Linked DNA regions of Homo sapiens: region 2 is linked to region 1. A link means that fine-mapping ties the variant in region 1 to the expression of a gene that starts in the linked region. Tissue or cell type: whole blood. Region 1 holds a variant in brackets; the other region holds the start of a gene. All regions are shown on one strand. Distances are between the middles of the regions. Region 1 overlaps ECPAS (Ecm29 proteasome adaptor and scaffold). Region 2 holds the start of ECPAS (Ecm29 proteasome adaptor and scaffold).

What was found. PIP is the estimated chance that this variant, and not a neighbour inherited with it, causes the effect.
Region 2: it holds the start of ECPAS, and the variant in region 1 is fine-mapped to the expression of ECPAS in whole blood (TOPMed, PIP above 0.99). The same link has a PIP of 0.9 or more in CD4 T cells, T cells, blood mononuclear cells and naive CD4 T cells.

The regions. Positions count from the first base shown.
Region 1 is chr9:111,454,521-111,462,862 of GRCh38, reverse strand. All of the region lies in intron 2 of ECPAS (Ecm29 proteasome adaptor and scaffold), which reads left to right. Among named protein-coding and RNA genes, the nearest start is that of ECPAS, 26 kb to the left of the region's middle. The variant G/A (reference allele first, on the strand shown) is at 4,540.
Region 2 is chr9:111,479,417-111,487,758 of GRCh38, reverse strand. ECPAS (Ecm29 proteasome adaptor and scaffold) reads left to right here and starts at 3,376. Exons shown (of 50, transcript NM_001364929.1): 1 at 3,376-3,643. RefSeq lists silencers at 3,277-3,816, 3,937-4,056, 4,327-4,746.

The DNA of each region.
Region 1 (8,342 bases):
GCTGAGGCAGGAGAATCGCTTGAACCTGGGAGGCAGAAGTTGCAGTGAGCCGAGATTGCACCACTGCACTCCAGCCTTGGTGACAGAGTGAAACTCTGTCTCAAAAAAAAAAAAAAAAAAAAAATTCCATGAATGTTGTGCTTCTCCATTAATTTAGATCTTATGAATTATAGTTAGGATTATAATTTTCTCTGTAAAGGACTATGACATGTTTCATTAGATTTATTTCCAGATAACTTGTAGTTTTATTGCCATTGTTAATTATATGTTTTTAAAAACTACATTGATACTTTGTTCTCATTTATCTCAGTTGACTTCTGTACTCTGATCTTGTATGCAACATAATTAACTTTCTTATTTTACATACCCTATCCCATAAATATCATGTAATCTGTGAATACTGACAGTTTTTAGTATCTCCTACTTCCATATTGCATTTTCTAGCAGTTCCAGTTCAATTTGCTTGGAAGTGATGATAGTGCACATCTTGTTTCTGATTTTGTATGAGATATATTTGCTGTAGATTTTACATAGATGCTTTTTGTCAGATTATGAAAGTTTCTTTCAGTGACGGTTATTTCCAGCTCCACAGTTATAAACTACTCTTTGGGACAGATTCTGCTAATCATATTTTTCAGACTCCCTTACCATCTAGCTTCTTGTTTTAAGATATCTTTTCCTATCTCGAGGTAATGAGAATATTCTTTATTTCTCTAGAAACTTTATTGTTTTACCTTTGACATTTAGATTTATGATCCATCTGGAATTGATTTTCTTTTTGTTTGATGATATGGTTTGGCTCTGTGTCCCCGTCCAAATCTCATCTTGTAGCTCCCATAATTCCCATGTGCTGTGGGAGGGATGCAGTGGGAGATGATTGAATCATGGGAGTGAGTCTTTCCCATGCTGTTCTCGTGATAGCGAGTGGGTCTTAGGAGATCTGATGGTTTCAGAAACGGGAGTTTGCCTGTACAAGCTGTCCCTTTGCCTGCTGCCATCCATGTTAAGATGTGACTTGCTCCTCCTTGCCTTCTGCCATGATTGAAAGGCTTCCCTATCCACATGGAACTGTAGTTCTCCATTAAACCTCTTTCCTTTGTGAATTCTCTAGTCTTGGATATGTCTTTATCAGCATCATGAAAACGGACTAATAGATATGGTGTGAGGTAGGGATTAAATATTGTTCTCCCATATTGGAATACAGTTGATTTAACACCATTTATTGAAAAGACCATCATTTACTCACTACATTGCAGTGACACCTCTGTTTAAACCAGGTGACTATATACCTGTTTGTCTTTTACACATTTTCTATTTTGTTCAAGTGGTCTACTTATTTTTTGTTAGCATAGTATACTTTTAATTACTGTAGTTTTTATTTTATGTGTTTATTTTTTTGAGACAAGGTCTTGCTCTTTTGCTCAGGCTGGAGTGCAGTGGCATGATCTTGGCTCACTGCAACCTCTACCTCCTGGGCTCAAGCAGTTCTCCCACCTAAGCCTCTCAAGTAGCAGGGACTACAGGTGCACGCCACCACGCCCAGCTAAATTTTTTTTTTTTTTTTTGGTAGAGATGGGGTTTCACCATGTTGCCCAGGCTGGTCTCAAACTCCTGAGCTCAAGCAATCAGCCTGCCTTGCCCTCCCACAGTGCTGGGATTACAGGGCTGAGCCACTGTGCCCAGCCTACTGTAGTTAGCCTTGAAATTTGACCAAAGTCTTCTAGCTGTTTTTCCTCTTCAAGATAGTTTTGGCAAATCTTGGTCCTTTGCATTTCTTTAAATTATAGAAAGAATCAACTTTTTTTTTTCTTCTAGTGGTATCCACACATTTAAAGATTATTCATCCACTCATTCATTGATTGAGATAGTTAGTATCTTCCTGTGTTGCCCAGGCTGGCCTGGAACCACTATAGGCTCGAGCCACTGTGCCTGGCTCTAGGATCAGCTTTTTAGTGTTACCCAAGTTATCTGATGGATTGTGCTTGGATTATATTGTCTATAGGTCAATTTGGGGAGAATTGACATCTTATTAATATTTTCTAATCTGTGAATATGGTGTATCTTTTAAGTTTTCCTTAATTTCTTGTAGCGGTGTATTTTAGTTTTCTGTGTAGAGGTCTTACACATTTTTCCCTAGATTAATTCCCAGCTATTCGATGTGTTTTGATGTCATTGTAATAGGTGTTTTCAAATTTTGTTTTCTAATGGTTTATTACTATTATATAGGAAACCAATTGATTTGTGTATTTTGTTATTCTATTAATTTTTCCATAGATTGTTTTGGATTTTTTGTGTACCAATCATTATCTTTAAATAATGAAAATATTATTTCTTCCTTTGTAATCTTAATGCATTTTATTTTTCTTTGTCTTATTGCTCTGAATAAAATTTGCAGTACAAATTTGAATAGAATTGGTAATAGTGAACATCTTTACCTTGTTCCTGAACTCAGAGGAAAAGTGTTTGGTATTTTACCTTTAGATATAATGTTTGCTGTAAGTTTTTATAAAAATCTCTTATCAGATTAAGGAAGTTCTCTTTTCTTCCTTGTCTCTTCAACATGAATAGTTTGTTCCCATCTATTTAGCATGAAGAGATGTTGAATTTGATCAAATGCCTTTTCTGTATATATTGAGATGATCATATGATTGTTATTCTCTATTGTGTTAATGTGGCAGATTACACTGATTTTCAATATTAAACCAACTTTGCATCTTTGGAATAAATCCAATTTTTGTATGATGTATTATCCTTTTTATGTATCGCTGGATTTGACTCATATTTTTTACTTATTTTATGTATTATGATTTAAATATTATTTTATTATCTCATTTGCGTCTATATTCATGAGAAATATCTTTTATTTGCTTTTATCTTTCTGGGGATACCCTTGTTTGGTATCAAGGTTATTCTGGCCTCTTAACATTCAGGGATGTGTTCCCCTGCCATCCCTTTACCCCACCTTTTTCTCTTCTCTGGAAGAAGTTATGAAGGAGAATTTACCAGCGAATTCATAAGGTCCTGCCATTTTTTTGTGTGGGGAGGTTTTTAAATAATACAGTTCATATTTGTGGTAATTTAGAATGAACCAGTTTTTTAAAGCAGAATTTATAATTGTGAGTTGTATCATTGTGGTCTGTCTTTAGAAGTAATTAAAAAAGCCCCTTAAAATCATGTAATTATGACTTTGTACTAAGTTATGCCTCCGTATGATGAGCTCTTGTGTCTCTGAGGTATTGTCACATGGGATTTTTAGCTTTCTGGCCTGGCTCAGTTTTCCTTTGGTGGTAGTAAATGGGGTTATTAACATACCTAGCATAGGATTCCTACTCTAGGTGGGATTCTACTAATAATTCATATTTTGCTCCCAGCTGATGGAATGTGTGTTCTCAAATATTTCGTAGACTTCTGATTTATTAAAATACTTATTTTTGTAGTAGTAGTCAGCTTTATTTAAAAAGGAGGTAAAATTAGCCAAATATGATGGCTCATACCTGTAATTCCAGCACTTTGGGAGTTTGAGGCAGGAGGATCGCTTGAGGCCAGGAGTTCACAAGCAGCCTGGGCAACATAGACCTCATTTCTACAAAAAATACAAAAAAGAAAAAGATAATAATTTCTTCTTGCCACTGAGCTTAAGGGGAAAAAAAAAGAAAAAGGTAAAATTAAAGGAATAATGTATTCTGAGAGATAATTATATACAATATTTATATAACATATGGAAAATATTTTATATCATATATAATTACTCTGCCAAACCTAACCAGTTAAGGGCATAGCCCTCCACTAGACTGAATCGACTTCATATGCCACCTACAAGTTCCTGTTATCCCAGAGCCACCCTCACTTTTGACCTATTGGATACAGATTTGGGGGTCTCCATGGACCCCCTCAGGTTTAATCATTAGCTAGAACGAGTCAGAACTCAGGAAAGCCGTGTATTTATGGTTATGGTTTTATAGAAAAGGATGCAAGTTAAAACCAGCCAAAGGGAGAGACATGTAGGGCAAGGCCTGAGAGGGTTCCAGATGCAAAGCTTGTGTTGTGTCAGGGTACTTTCCCAGTATAGCAATGTGTGATAATACACACAATGCACTGCTGATCATAGAAGCTCACCGGCTCACCTGAACTTTGGTGTCCAGGGTTTTATTGACCAGGTGTGATTGATTGATTGGATCATTGCCCATGTGACTCAATTTCTAACACCCCCCCCACCCTCCTCTCCCTCTCCAACCCTTCCCCTTGTCCACCTCCCCTAATCACCTGGCTGAAAACCTGCAAGATGATTAGTCTTTCTAGTGTGATCAACCCCCATCCTGAGTTATCTCTTAGCGTAAACAATCTGGGGCCCACTATGAGTTACTTCCTCAGTGTAAGTTATCAAATGTGATTAGAGGGTCCCACCATGAATAACAAAGGCACTTCAGTTACTGGGGAAATCCCAAGGGTTTAGTGCTTTCCTCTCAGGAACATGGACAGAGGTCACCTAAATTCTTTATTACACAAGAATATAAAAGCTACATCTGTAATATGATAGCC[G/A]TATATAACATTATATAATGTTTCACAACATTCTTATGAAGCAATCTTATGCTGTTCCTAATAGACAAGTTCATTAATAACCTTAGAGAGGTTTAGTTTACTAACTAAAACCAGTAATGTATCTGACATGAAAATATAGGTCCGTTGGCTCCTTTATATCTTAGACTCTCGGAGAGAATCATTAGTTGGGCTTTCACAAGTCTATATTAATAATGTATAGTTTATAAATAATAGCCCATTTAGAATTGTCCCCATAATATATGCAAAGGAGGAATTTTATACTTTTTTAATGTGTGTTTCTCATGTGTGTATGTATATGCACACAAAATCTAGATACTTCTTTTAGCAGAAATTCTCCTTAGTTGGTTGATGTGAAATAAAGGATATTTTCCTAAATCACATTTATAACTGAAGGTTTGGAAAACGTTGTCTGTATATGTTTGTATTTTTTCAGTGATTAGACACTGATATAAATGCTATAGGGGTAGGGGGAAGAAAGGATAGGAGATTTATTTTTTATTTGTTTGACTGTGTGGATTAATGCTGCTGTAAATTTATATTCACTAACCTCAATTGGGTCCTTTACACTTTCTTCACATTTGTAGTTCATTTTACCAGTCAATTTTCTTCTCTTCTTCACTCTGGGGCAAGCCTTTTCCTACCATTGTCACGCTGCCCACTTGCCCTCTGCTCTCCAAATCTCAGAAGAAGACTGTGCCTTCTATTTTACAGAAATAATAGAAACCATCAGAAGGGAATTCTTTCAGGCCCTTCCATAAAATTTATAAGATTGATTTTATCAACAGCAGTCTTCCTGTTTCCCTCCTGTTACAATGGCAGAGATGGCCTTCCTGTCCTATCTAAGGTAATTCCTCAGACCTTGTGCTGAATCCTAATCTCTCCCATATTCTCAGGGTCACAGTCTAATAATTTTTTCCCTCTTCAGTTTCTTTCTCTCTAGTGGCTTTTTCCTTTTGCTATTTAAATGTGCTCAGAGCTCTTATTTGATTGAAATAATGAAAAATAACTGTTCCCCTCCCCTTTCATAACTAAAAGTTTCTAAAGAGTTGTCATTTACTGTATTCCTCACATCCTTTTTAATCTTCCACTGATTCCTCTACCCTGTACAGTCTGCTTTTTTCTCTACCACTTCATTGAAACTGCTTGAGCCAAGGTCAGGTGTGAACTCTATTGCTGAATTAACTGGATTCTTTTCAATTCTTATCTTGCATGATCTTTTTGCATCATTTGAAATGGTTGACTGCTGTCTCCTAGGAAAATCTTTCTTAATTATTCTGACCCCACGTTTTCTTTTTATTTTTGTCTGTTGCCTACCATTCCCTTTTTCAGACTTTCCTTCTCCTGCATTTAAATGCTGTTGTTCGCAAACAGTCTGTCCTAGGCCTTCTGTTATTTTCTTTCTACATGCAGTTATCATATACTTGTGAGGTAAGCCTGGACAACATCCATGCCTCTTCCCTCTCCACTCTTTTTACCCATGACCACCAAGCTCTTACGCATGGTAGAGTTTCAGTAGATACTTGAATGAGTGACCTAGATAGGAGAATGAGTGCTTGACTGTGAAACTGGGAGGGTGCTGGGCCTTGAAGGAGGAGAGAATTTTGATGAGCAGGAAGGAGGAGGAGAAAGGTTGAACTGCAGCTGGTCACATATGGAGTTAGCTTCTTATTCATAGTAGTGAGTTCCCTCTAGTGTTGTTTTCTGACCTTTGAATTTGTATGTTTTTCCATTTTTGTAATAAATACTGCCTGAATGAGACACATTCTAGTGAACGTTTGGATATTCTTTCAAATAAAACTTCCTGTATAAGGTGTAGTATGTACAGTATGTGTACCTGATAGAAAATAGGGTCATTCTTGGAGACAGTTGTATGGTATAGGCAAGGATTTTTAGACTAAAGGTCAGAAGACTCCATTCTTATTCTTACTCTGCTGCTAATTAATCTGTGACCTTGGGCAAGTCCTTAAAACTCACTGTGCTTTTTTACGTTATATAATCTTTCAGTCTTCTTCAGTTCTGTTTTCAGTCCAGTACAAATCTTTCTTTATGCAGGCTTCAAAATTAATTTTCTTCTTGACTTGGGGGGTAGTCACAAGATTGTTTATAATAATTCATTAAACCATGCATTTATGTTTTGAATGATTTTCTGTATGTATTATTACATAGTTAAGAAGATTTTAAAAACCCACCAAAGACTTGTTTCCTACATCCCTCCATATACCAAAAGAAAATTCCAGATGGATCAAAGACTTGAATGCAGAAAGCAAAATCATAAGTGTACTTGAAAGAAAACATAGGTAAATATACCTGCCAGGAGACTCCCAGTTCGCCCCTAGCTTCAGTGATTGTCTAGTAGGACTCACAGGATTCAGCATATATTTGTACTCCCAGCTAAGATTTAGTGTAGCAAGGTCACCAAAGGGAAAAGTCATGTGAGTGAAATCTGGAGGAAACCAGGTGCAAGCTTCCAAGAATCTTCTGGTGGAGTCACACAGCACATACTTGATTCCTCCAGAAGTGAGTTGTGACAGCACCTCTGAAATGGTATCCACCAGAGATGGTCATCAGAGACTCAGTGCCTCAGGTTTTTATTTGGGGCTGGTCATGTTGGTACCTTCTTCCTAAAATGTACCAAAATTCCGCCCTGAAGGGAAGCTGATGTTCAGCATAAACAATATTATTTGCACAGACAGGCACAATGAACCACTCTTAGCAGTTCTGGGAATGGTGGGAACCCTGCTGAAATCCAGGTTTCCAGATATCAGCCATGGGCCAGCCTCAGCTAGAAAGCACATCTTTCTTTCTTTCTTTCTTTTTCTGAGACAGAGTCTCGCTTTATTGCCCAGACTGGAGTGCAGTGGCACGATATCTGCTCACTGCGAGCTCCGCTCCCTGGGTTCATGCCATTCTCCTGCCTCAGCTTCCTGAGTAGCTGGGACTACAGGCACCCGCCACCACGCCCGGCTAATTTTTTGAAATTTTAGTAGAGATGGGGTTTCACCGTGTTCGCCAGGATAGTCTCTATCTCCTGACCTCATGATCTGCCCTCCTTGGCCTCCCAAAGTGCTGGGATTACAGGCGTGAACCATGTGCCAGGCCGAAAGCAAGTGTTTCTACAGGTAGCAGTCCTGGGTCTGTGTAAACTCTTCTCTGCACAATATAATATTTAAAAGTATTTTGCAGTGAAAATGACTTTTCTAAGCATGCCTAGAAACTCCGAAGTCATATAGGGAAGGAATGGTAAGTTTAACTATACTCAAAAGACTTAGGCCGGGTGCAGTGGCTCATACTTGTAATCCCAGCACTTTGGGAGGCCAAAGTATGAGGATCGCTTGAGGCCAGGAATTCAAGACCAGCCTCTGTCTTGAGGCCAGGAATTCAAGACCAGGAATTCAAGACCAGAGACCTCTGTCTCTACAAAAAATAAAAAAATCAGCTGGGTGTGGTGGCGTATGCCTGTAGTCCAAGCTACTTGGGAGGCTGAAGTAGGAGAATAGCCCAGGAGGTTGAGGCTGCAGTGAGCTGTGGATAGCGCCACTGCACTCTAGCCTGGGTGTCAGCAAGACCCTGTCTTATTTAAAAAAAAAAAAAAAGGAAAAGAAAAATATAGCAGTTATATCTGTAGATGTTGACCTTTCTTCTTTTTTGTGAAACTTGAACAAGCTTATCTTTTATTTAAGTATAGATGGGTCTGTAAAGATGACGTAACAGTGTTAGATTGATTCACCTCAAAGGTAGAAGGCTTTACCTTTTCCTCTGGTGTAGCCAGCCTGTTTTAGCAG
Region 2 (8,342 bases), 25 kb before region 1:
TCTTTGTTTTTAGGTGTCTGTTAGCACTTGTCATCCATGTATCTGCCCAGAAGAAGAATGCTTTCAAATATTTTGCTTTAACGCTGGAAACAAGATTTTTAAAAATCTTGTTAGAACTGTATATGTGTTTGATGTGAAGACAGCCTACATGAGAGGAGAGGGGACAGGTTTTTAGTTCTTGGATTCTATGATATCCTATTTTGGTTTCTCAGTAGCCTCTTCTCTGGCTCCTGTTTTCCTCCTCACCCCAATTCCTTCTTGCCTCTGTTTTTGACAGCTGAAGTGAATTCTAGACAGGAACTATCTCAAGGCTGCTGTTATTCAAAACCTAAGTGTTTCATATGAACATGAAGCTATTTAGTGGGAAAAATGAACTACAAGTAGTTTGATGGAAGAAGCAAGTATAAAAAAGCTTAGAGCTTTACACAGTAGTGATCAGAAGTAGCACTGTAAGTTGCTATAAACTACTGTATGTAATGAGACTTTAAGATCTTTTTTTGCCTAACAATTCCACATCTACATCTAGAAATATGTGATTACATAAAGATATGTATAAGAATGTTTTACAGTAGTATTGTTTAGTAAAAAACTGTAAACAACCTAACAGCTCATCAATAGGGAAATGGTTAAATACATTTTGTTGGTACTTATCATGCAGCCATTTAAAAAAAAAATGAGGCCAGGCACAGTGGCTCACGCCTGTAATCCCAACACTTTGGGAGGCCAAGGCAGGTGGATCATTTGAGGTCAGGAGTTTGAGACCAGCCTGGCCAACATGGTGAAACTCCATCTCTACTAAAAATACAAAAATTAGCTGGGCGTGGTGGTACATGCCTGTAATCCCAGCTACTCAGGAGGGTGAGGCAGGAGAATCGCTTGAACCCGGGAGGCGGAGGTTGCAGTGAACTGAGATCGTGCCACTGCACTCCAGCCTGGGGGACAGAGCGAGACTCCCTCTCAAAAAAAAAAAAAAAAAAAAGAGGTAGTTCTGTACATACTGATCCTAGTGATTAAGCAAGCTGACTCTGAATCCACACTGCCCAGGTTCAAATCCCAGCTCCACCACTTACTTTCCAGTTTGTGGCACATTAGATGTGTTCCTCAACCATCCAGTGCCATAAAAATCCCTATTTCATAAGATTGTTGTGGGGGTTAGATGAATTCATCCAAGTAAAACACTAGAATGGTGTCTGGCATAATTATTATTCCATTAGCCATTATTATCATTACTGATATGAAAGGACACCTGTAATACATTATTTGGTGAAAAGATAACGTTACATAATATGGGAAGTAGAGTTCCATTTTTGTCAAAACTAACAAAAATCTGTGTACACACATTCATGTGATTTGTACACGCAGAGAACCTGGAATTTCTTCATAGGAGGAACTAAGGATTTGTTAACTAGTCTTGCCTGGAGGTTAAAATTGCCTAACGGCCAGGCATGGTGGCTCACACCTGTAATCCCAGCACTTTGGGAGGCCGAGGTGGGTGGATCACCTGAGGTCAGGAGTTGGAGACCAGCCTGGCCAACATGGAGAAACCCCGTCTTTACTGAAAACACAAAATTAGCCGGACGTGGTGACGCATGCCTATAATCCCAGCTACTCGGGAGGCTGAGGCAGGGGAATCGCTTGAACCCAGGAGGCGGAGGTTGCGGTGAGCCGAGATCGCGCCATTGCACTCCAGCCTGGGCAACAAGAGCGAAACTCCGTTTCAAAAAATAAAATAAAATAAATAAATAAATGAATAAAAATAAAATAAAATAACAAACCCATTGTTTTTTACTCAGATTCTGTATTTATCTGGGGTGGCTTTGGAAGGATCCATTTGAAATTATGGGAAGTCAAATTTCCCCAAACCAGTCTTTGGTGCAGCTACTTTCTATAGTCACGGAAACAGTAAGGAAAGGTTGAATGCACCAAACTGTTAATAGGGATTATTTATGGGCATGAGTGGGATGAGGGGGGATGGTGGGTATGCAGTTGGGAGAAGACCTGTATACACCTCTCTATTGTTTGTAAGTAGTTCATTGTGTATTTATTTTGGAGGCAACATCAAATAAAAGAGGAGCATACATGAAAAAAGGGGTTGGTTAACTTAGTGTAGTATGAAGTTACAAACAAAAAAGGGTGATGGTAGTGCAGTGTTTTGAATTAACATGGAACAATGTGTGTGAAGGAATAATTGATCCAGAACTTTATTGTAGAAACCTGTCCCCATCAAAGCCATACATGGGGCTGTATATATATGTCCAGAGAAAAGGTCTTCTGCACACTTAACTGTAACTGTTAGTCATAATTTCTCTGCAGAGTGGGATGGTGGGGCTAGGAGGAAGGACTTTCACTTTTAATTTTATGATACTCCAAATCATTTGCATTTTTTTTTTACAAAAATTATGTATAATTTTTCTTTTTTTTTTCTTTTTGAGACGGAGTCTCGCTCTGTCCCCCAGGCTGGAGTGCAGTGGTGCGATCTCGGCTCACTGCAAGCTCCGCCTCCCGGGTTCAAGCGATTCTCCTACCTCAGCCTCCCGAGTAGTTGGGATTACAGGCGCGCGCCTCCACGCCCAGCTAATTTTTGTATTTTTTAATTAGAGACAGGGTTTCACCATGTTGGCCAGGCTGGTCTCGAACTCCTGACCTCGTGATCCACCCGCCTAAGCCTCCGAAAGAGCTGGGATTACAGGCGTGAGCCACCGCGCCCGGCCCAAGATCATGTATAATTTCTATAACAAAAACAATAAAGGAAATAAAAATGTCTTCAGTGTTGTACCTTGTACTTGGCCTATGTTACAACAGGAATGACATATATTCCATTTTTAAGACATTACTTAGGGCTTTATAGATTTCTGCTTTAAGGAATAAATGCAATTTCAATCTATTTAAGACTTGATTTCTTCTTATATAAAAAAAGTATCTGATCTTGTATCTAATTTGTTATGACAGTACCATCACTTAAAGTACAGCAATTATGCAACCCCTGAATTTGAATTTCATTTTGCAAGTGTACATGACCTCACGGACAAAGCGAAGGCAGAAAGTTAAAATCAGCATATCGAAAATAAATCACTCTAGTTACCGAAAAGAACATAGGGTATCTGAACAAAATCTCAGAGCTCACATAGGCATAGATACTTCCATGTGAACTTTAGGAATCTTGCCTTATCTAACTTTTGCAGGGCTGAGTGGACCCCCTGCTCCCGCTAGCCGTTTTGGGAGCACCAGCCACCTCCACACCAGAACTGGGCTGTCGGGGGCCGCTGCGGCGCAGGGGCTCGTCCGGGACTGAGTCAGCGCCGGGGCCGAGAAGTTCGGCGGGAGGCGCAGGGCGGGGCTTCCTCCCGCCGACTCCGAGCCCGGCTCTACTTTTCTGAGTCCACGTCTCTTCCTTTGGACAGGCGTGTTTCCCCAGGTCGGGCCCAGCCAACGTGACAGCCGCAGACCTCGGAAAAGGGCGCTCCGGCCCCGCCTCGAGGATTTCCCCCGGCCGCTAGGGCAGCCCGGGCCCGCTCGGCCCAGCCCCTCACGGACTGCGGCGCGCGGCTCCCCGGGGCCCGGCCCGCCGAACGCCTCGCTCTACAGCCCTCACCTCGCGGCGCCGAGCGCAGCGTCCGCGGCATGGAGACCGGCTCCGACTCAGGTCAGAGGCCCGCCCCCGGGCCGCGGGGGACTGGCCCTGCGCGCGCGGCGGCGCGGTTAGGCCGGGCCGCCCGCACAGGCCGCCGCGTGTCGAGTCCGCGCGGGGAGCGCACGCGGGGCGGGCGGCGACAGGTGGGCAGGACGAGCCGCGAGCGAGCGAGGGCGGGCGGGCGCGCGAGGGGCCCGGCGGGGGGGCCGCTGGGAGGATGGCTCAGCTCTTTCTAAATATAAAACCGGCGTGAGTTGGGCGAGCGCGGCGCGGAGTCGCAGAGCCGCCGCGCGGGCCTGGCGCACGGGGATTCGGCCGCACAGACGGCGGCGGCGGCAGCGGCAGCGGCTCCGCAGAGGCGCGAGGCTGCGGGAGCGCCCGAGTCGCGAGCTCGCGGGGGCAGCGAAGGGCGACGCTCGCGACGCGGAGGACGCAGGCGGCGGCGGCGGGCGGGCCTCGGGGCACAGCGCGGTCCGCGCCGAGTGAACGGAGGCGGCTCGCGGCCCCTGCCGCACCGCGAGCCGCGAGCCCCCCGGCCGCGCCCTGCCCCCCCAGCCCCTCCCTCGTTCCCTCCCCGGCGCAACATGGCTGCGGCCGCCGCCTCCGCCTCCCAGGATGAGCTGAGTAAGTGCCGCGGCCGAACCTGCGGCCGCGAGCCGGAACGGGCGCCGCGCGGTGCCGGGGGCCGGCGGCCGCATGAGGGCTGGGGCGCCAGGCCCGGTGGGCGGGCGGCGGCCGCGGCGTACGGGGAGCTGGGGAGCCCGGGCCTGGCGGACGGGCGGGGCGCGGACCGTCGCCGCTGGCGTTTGTAGGCCTCAGGTTTGCACCGTCACGTTGCGAAATTGAAACCGGAGCCCCGGGCGGAGCCACCTCTGCCCGCGATCCGCCCTGGCCCGGGGTCGGGGGAGCCCAGCCCCCTGCCCACTGAGCCTCGGCTGGCGGGAGGGCCGGAGCCCCGGGGTGACGGGCAGTGTCCGCCCGTCCCGTCTGACCCCGCCTGGCCCCGGGTCCCCGACGGCTGGTTGAGTTATAGAAATGGAGCTTTCGGGAAGGGGGAGAAGGTGCCTTTTTGTGACACTCTAGTAATCAGCCGAAAGGTCACGAATAGGCGGTGACCCTCAGATGGAGCAGGGAGGGCGGAGAGGGTCGCCGGTCGAACCGCAGGAGAAACCACGGGGTGACAGCGCTTTCAGAAAGGAGAGTTAGTGCCCCCTCGATCGTACGCGGTGCAGCCTTCCCGGGGACGGCGGTCCCTGTCTGGGGAGAGCGGTGGTCACCCTGAATCCCAGGCCGCCCCGCCCGCCGCCGGGGTTCGCCTCAATGCTTTGTGGGAAGTGTAGTTCCGGGGCGCCGCGGACCCACGCTGGGGTCATAAATACCGAAGTTTCATAGGACATAGGACATGTGAGATAATTTCTGATTGCGTTTTGAGTGTTCTCCCCCCCAAGGGTTTTCTTTCTTTCCCTTTTTTTTTTTCTCCCAATGCTGCCCTTCAGTTTATGGCAAAAACAAGAAAGGTGTTATTTGAAGATGATGTGGGTTTTAAATGGAATAAAGCATGGGTGAGGTGTTGCAAGCTTTATGAAGCTTACGTTGTTAAAGCCGCTTCTGAATTTCCATATGAAAGTAGTTATACACGTAATGTATGTTTTTCTGGTGCTTGTCAGTTTAAAGCCACTTTTATATACATGATCTCACTTTTGCCCTCATAGCAACCTTGTGAGGCAGATAGGTAGGAATTATCCTTGTTTTAAAGAGGAGGCAGGTTTGGAGAGATTAAGTTCCTTGCTGCTTTGACACAGAACTGGTGGAGCAGGAGTACTGTTTGCTTTTTTTGAAGCTGAAGTAAACACTTGGTGTGATCCTGAGCAGATTGGAGAGTCGGAGGAGACAAGGTCTCATGGTGCGATTAGAGAGAGAAGCGGGCTACAGATTGCTCTTCTGTCGGTTCCACGTGGAAGCACCACCAGGCCTTCTGAGATCAGTTCCATGTTTTGTTTTAATTGGAAGAAAAGTACACATACCATAAAATTTCCCGTCCTAGCCATTTTTTAAGTGTACAGTTCAGTGGGATTGAGTACATTCACACTGTTGTGTAATCATCACCACCATCCATTTCCAGAACTCTTCGTCTTGTAAAACGGAAACTTGATACCCATTAAACAACAAATCCTCATTCCCTCCTCCCTTCGGCCCCTGGCGACCATCATTGTACTTTCTGTCCCTGTGATTTTGAGTATTCTTCCTACCTCGTGTGAATGGAATCATACAGAATTTGTGACTGGTTTTATCTTTATTTAGCATAATGTCCTCAAGGTTCATCCATGTTGTTGCGTGTGTCAGAATTTCTTTTCCTTTTAAAGGTTGAATGATATTCCCTTGTATGTATATATCACATTTCCTTGTCCATCTATCTGTCTATGGACACTTGGGTTGCTTCCACATTTTAGCTATTGGGAATAATGCTGTTGTGAACATGGGTGTACAGATACCCCTTTGAGACCTTGCTTTCAGTTCTTTTGGGTACATACCCAGAAATGTAATTGCTGGATCATGTGATAGTTCTAGTTTTAAATTTTTAAGGAACCACTGTACTGTTTTCTTTTTTCTTTTTTTTTTCTTGAGACCAAGTCTTGCTCTGTCGCCCAGACTGGAGTGCAGTGGCGCGATCTCCGCTCACTGTAAGCTCCGCCTCCCAGGTTCACGCCATTCTTATGCCTCAGCCCTCCGAGTAGCTGGGACTGCAGGCGCCCGCCACCACGCCCGGCTAATTTTTTGTATTTTTAGTAGAGACGGGGTTTCACTGTGTTAGCCAAGATGGTCTTGATCTCCTGACCTTGTGATCTGCTGTGATCCACCCGCCTCGGCCTCCCAAAGTGCTGGGATTACAGGCGTGAGCCACCGCGCCCGGCCCCCACTGTACTGTTTTTGACAGTGGTTGTACCATTTTACATTACCACCAACAATACACAGAGTTCTAATTTCTCTATATCCTGGCCGACACTTATCTATATTGTCAGTAGTAACCATCCTGTTGGGTGTGAGGTGGTCTGATTTTTTTTCAATTGCTATGCTGTATGACATCTGAGTTCCTGTTGTAGAACCAAACACATTAAAGTCTGAATTGATAGCAGGAATGGGAACAAAACTAGAGGAAGAATTGGATATTCTGAAGTGGCTGAAGTATTTGTGTCTATGCAGTGTGCTTCCATACATTCAGGTACTGGTTAAGATGCTGATAGTTAAGGGATTTCCTGGCTCTAGTACCTAATGGAAAGTTAGGAACAAATAATTCCAATCCTTGCCTTCTTCTTGTTTTGTTCAGTTAAATTGTCAGTCATCAGCCACAGATATCGGTGGACTTGGTTTCTGTATTTCTTCAGGAGAGACTGAATACGTTGCAGTTGATACCTTAGAATAATTTAACTTGAAAGCATATACATGTACACTGGTTAAGAAGTTTCATATAAACCACTTTTAGTTTTAGAATGGGTATAATAAAATAGCAGATGCTGATAAAATGTGCTTTTGGCCAGGTGTGGTGGCTCACACCTGTAATCCTAGCACTTTAGGAGGCCGAGATGGGTGGATCACCTGAGGTCAGGAGTTCAAGACCAGGCTGGCCAACATGGTGAAACCCTGTCTCTACTAAAAATACAAAATTTAGCCTGGTGTGGCGGCACGTGCCTGTAGTCCCAGGTACTCAGGAGGCTGAGGCAGGAGAATCACTTGAACCTGTGAGGTGGAAGTTCCAGTGAGCCAAGATTGTGCCGCTGCACTCCAGCCTGGGCAACAGAGCTAGACTCTGTCTCAAAAAAAAAAAAAAAAAAAAAAAGAAAAGGTGCTTTTAAGAATTCCACTAAAAAAAAAGGAGAGAATTATCCAAATATTTTCTATCATTTATGACTAGTAGATGATAGTAAAAGCAAACTACTAGATGCCAGCATTGTTCTCTTCCACTAACATTTTATTGTAAAAAATCTTCAAACACACAGAAAAGTTGAAAGTGAACATTCGTGTACCCACCACTTAGATTCTATCATTGATAGTCAAATAACTTTATCATATTTACTATTATAGCAAACTTTGTCATTTGTCCATCTCAGTAGATTTTTAAAAATTGTTAAAGTTTTTTTTTTTTTTTTTTGAGACGGAGTTTCAGTCTGTCACCCAGGCTGGTGTGCAGTGGCGCGCGATCTCGGCTCACTGCAACCTTTGCCGCCTGGGTTTAAGCAATTCTCCTGCCTTAGCCTCCTGAGTAACTGGGATTACAGGCACCTGTCACTGCGCCCAGCTAATTTTTGCATTTTTAGTAGAGACGAGGTTTCACCATCTTGGCCAGGTTGGTCTTGAACTCCTGACCTCGTGATCCCCCCACCTCAGCCTCCCACAGTGCTGGGATTACAGGCGTGAGCCACCATGCTTGGCCAATTGTTAAACTTTTTTAGTTTTACTTTATTTTTTAAAAAATAGTAGTAAAATACACATAACATAAAATTTACCACCTTAACAATTTTTTTTGTTGTCTTTTTCTGGAGACGGAGTCTTGCTCTGTCGCCCAGGCTGGAGTGGAATGGCGCCATCTTGGCTCACTGCAACCTCCACATCCTGGGTTCAAGTGATTCTTCTGCCTCAGTCTCCCGAGTAGCTGGGATTACAGGTGTGCGCCACCATGCCCGGCTAATTTTTTTTTTGGTAGAGACAGGATTTC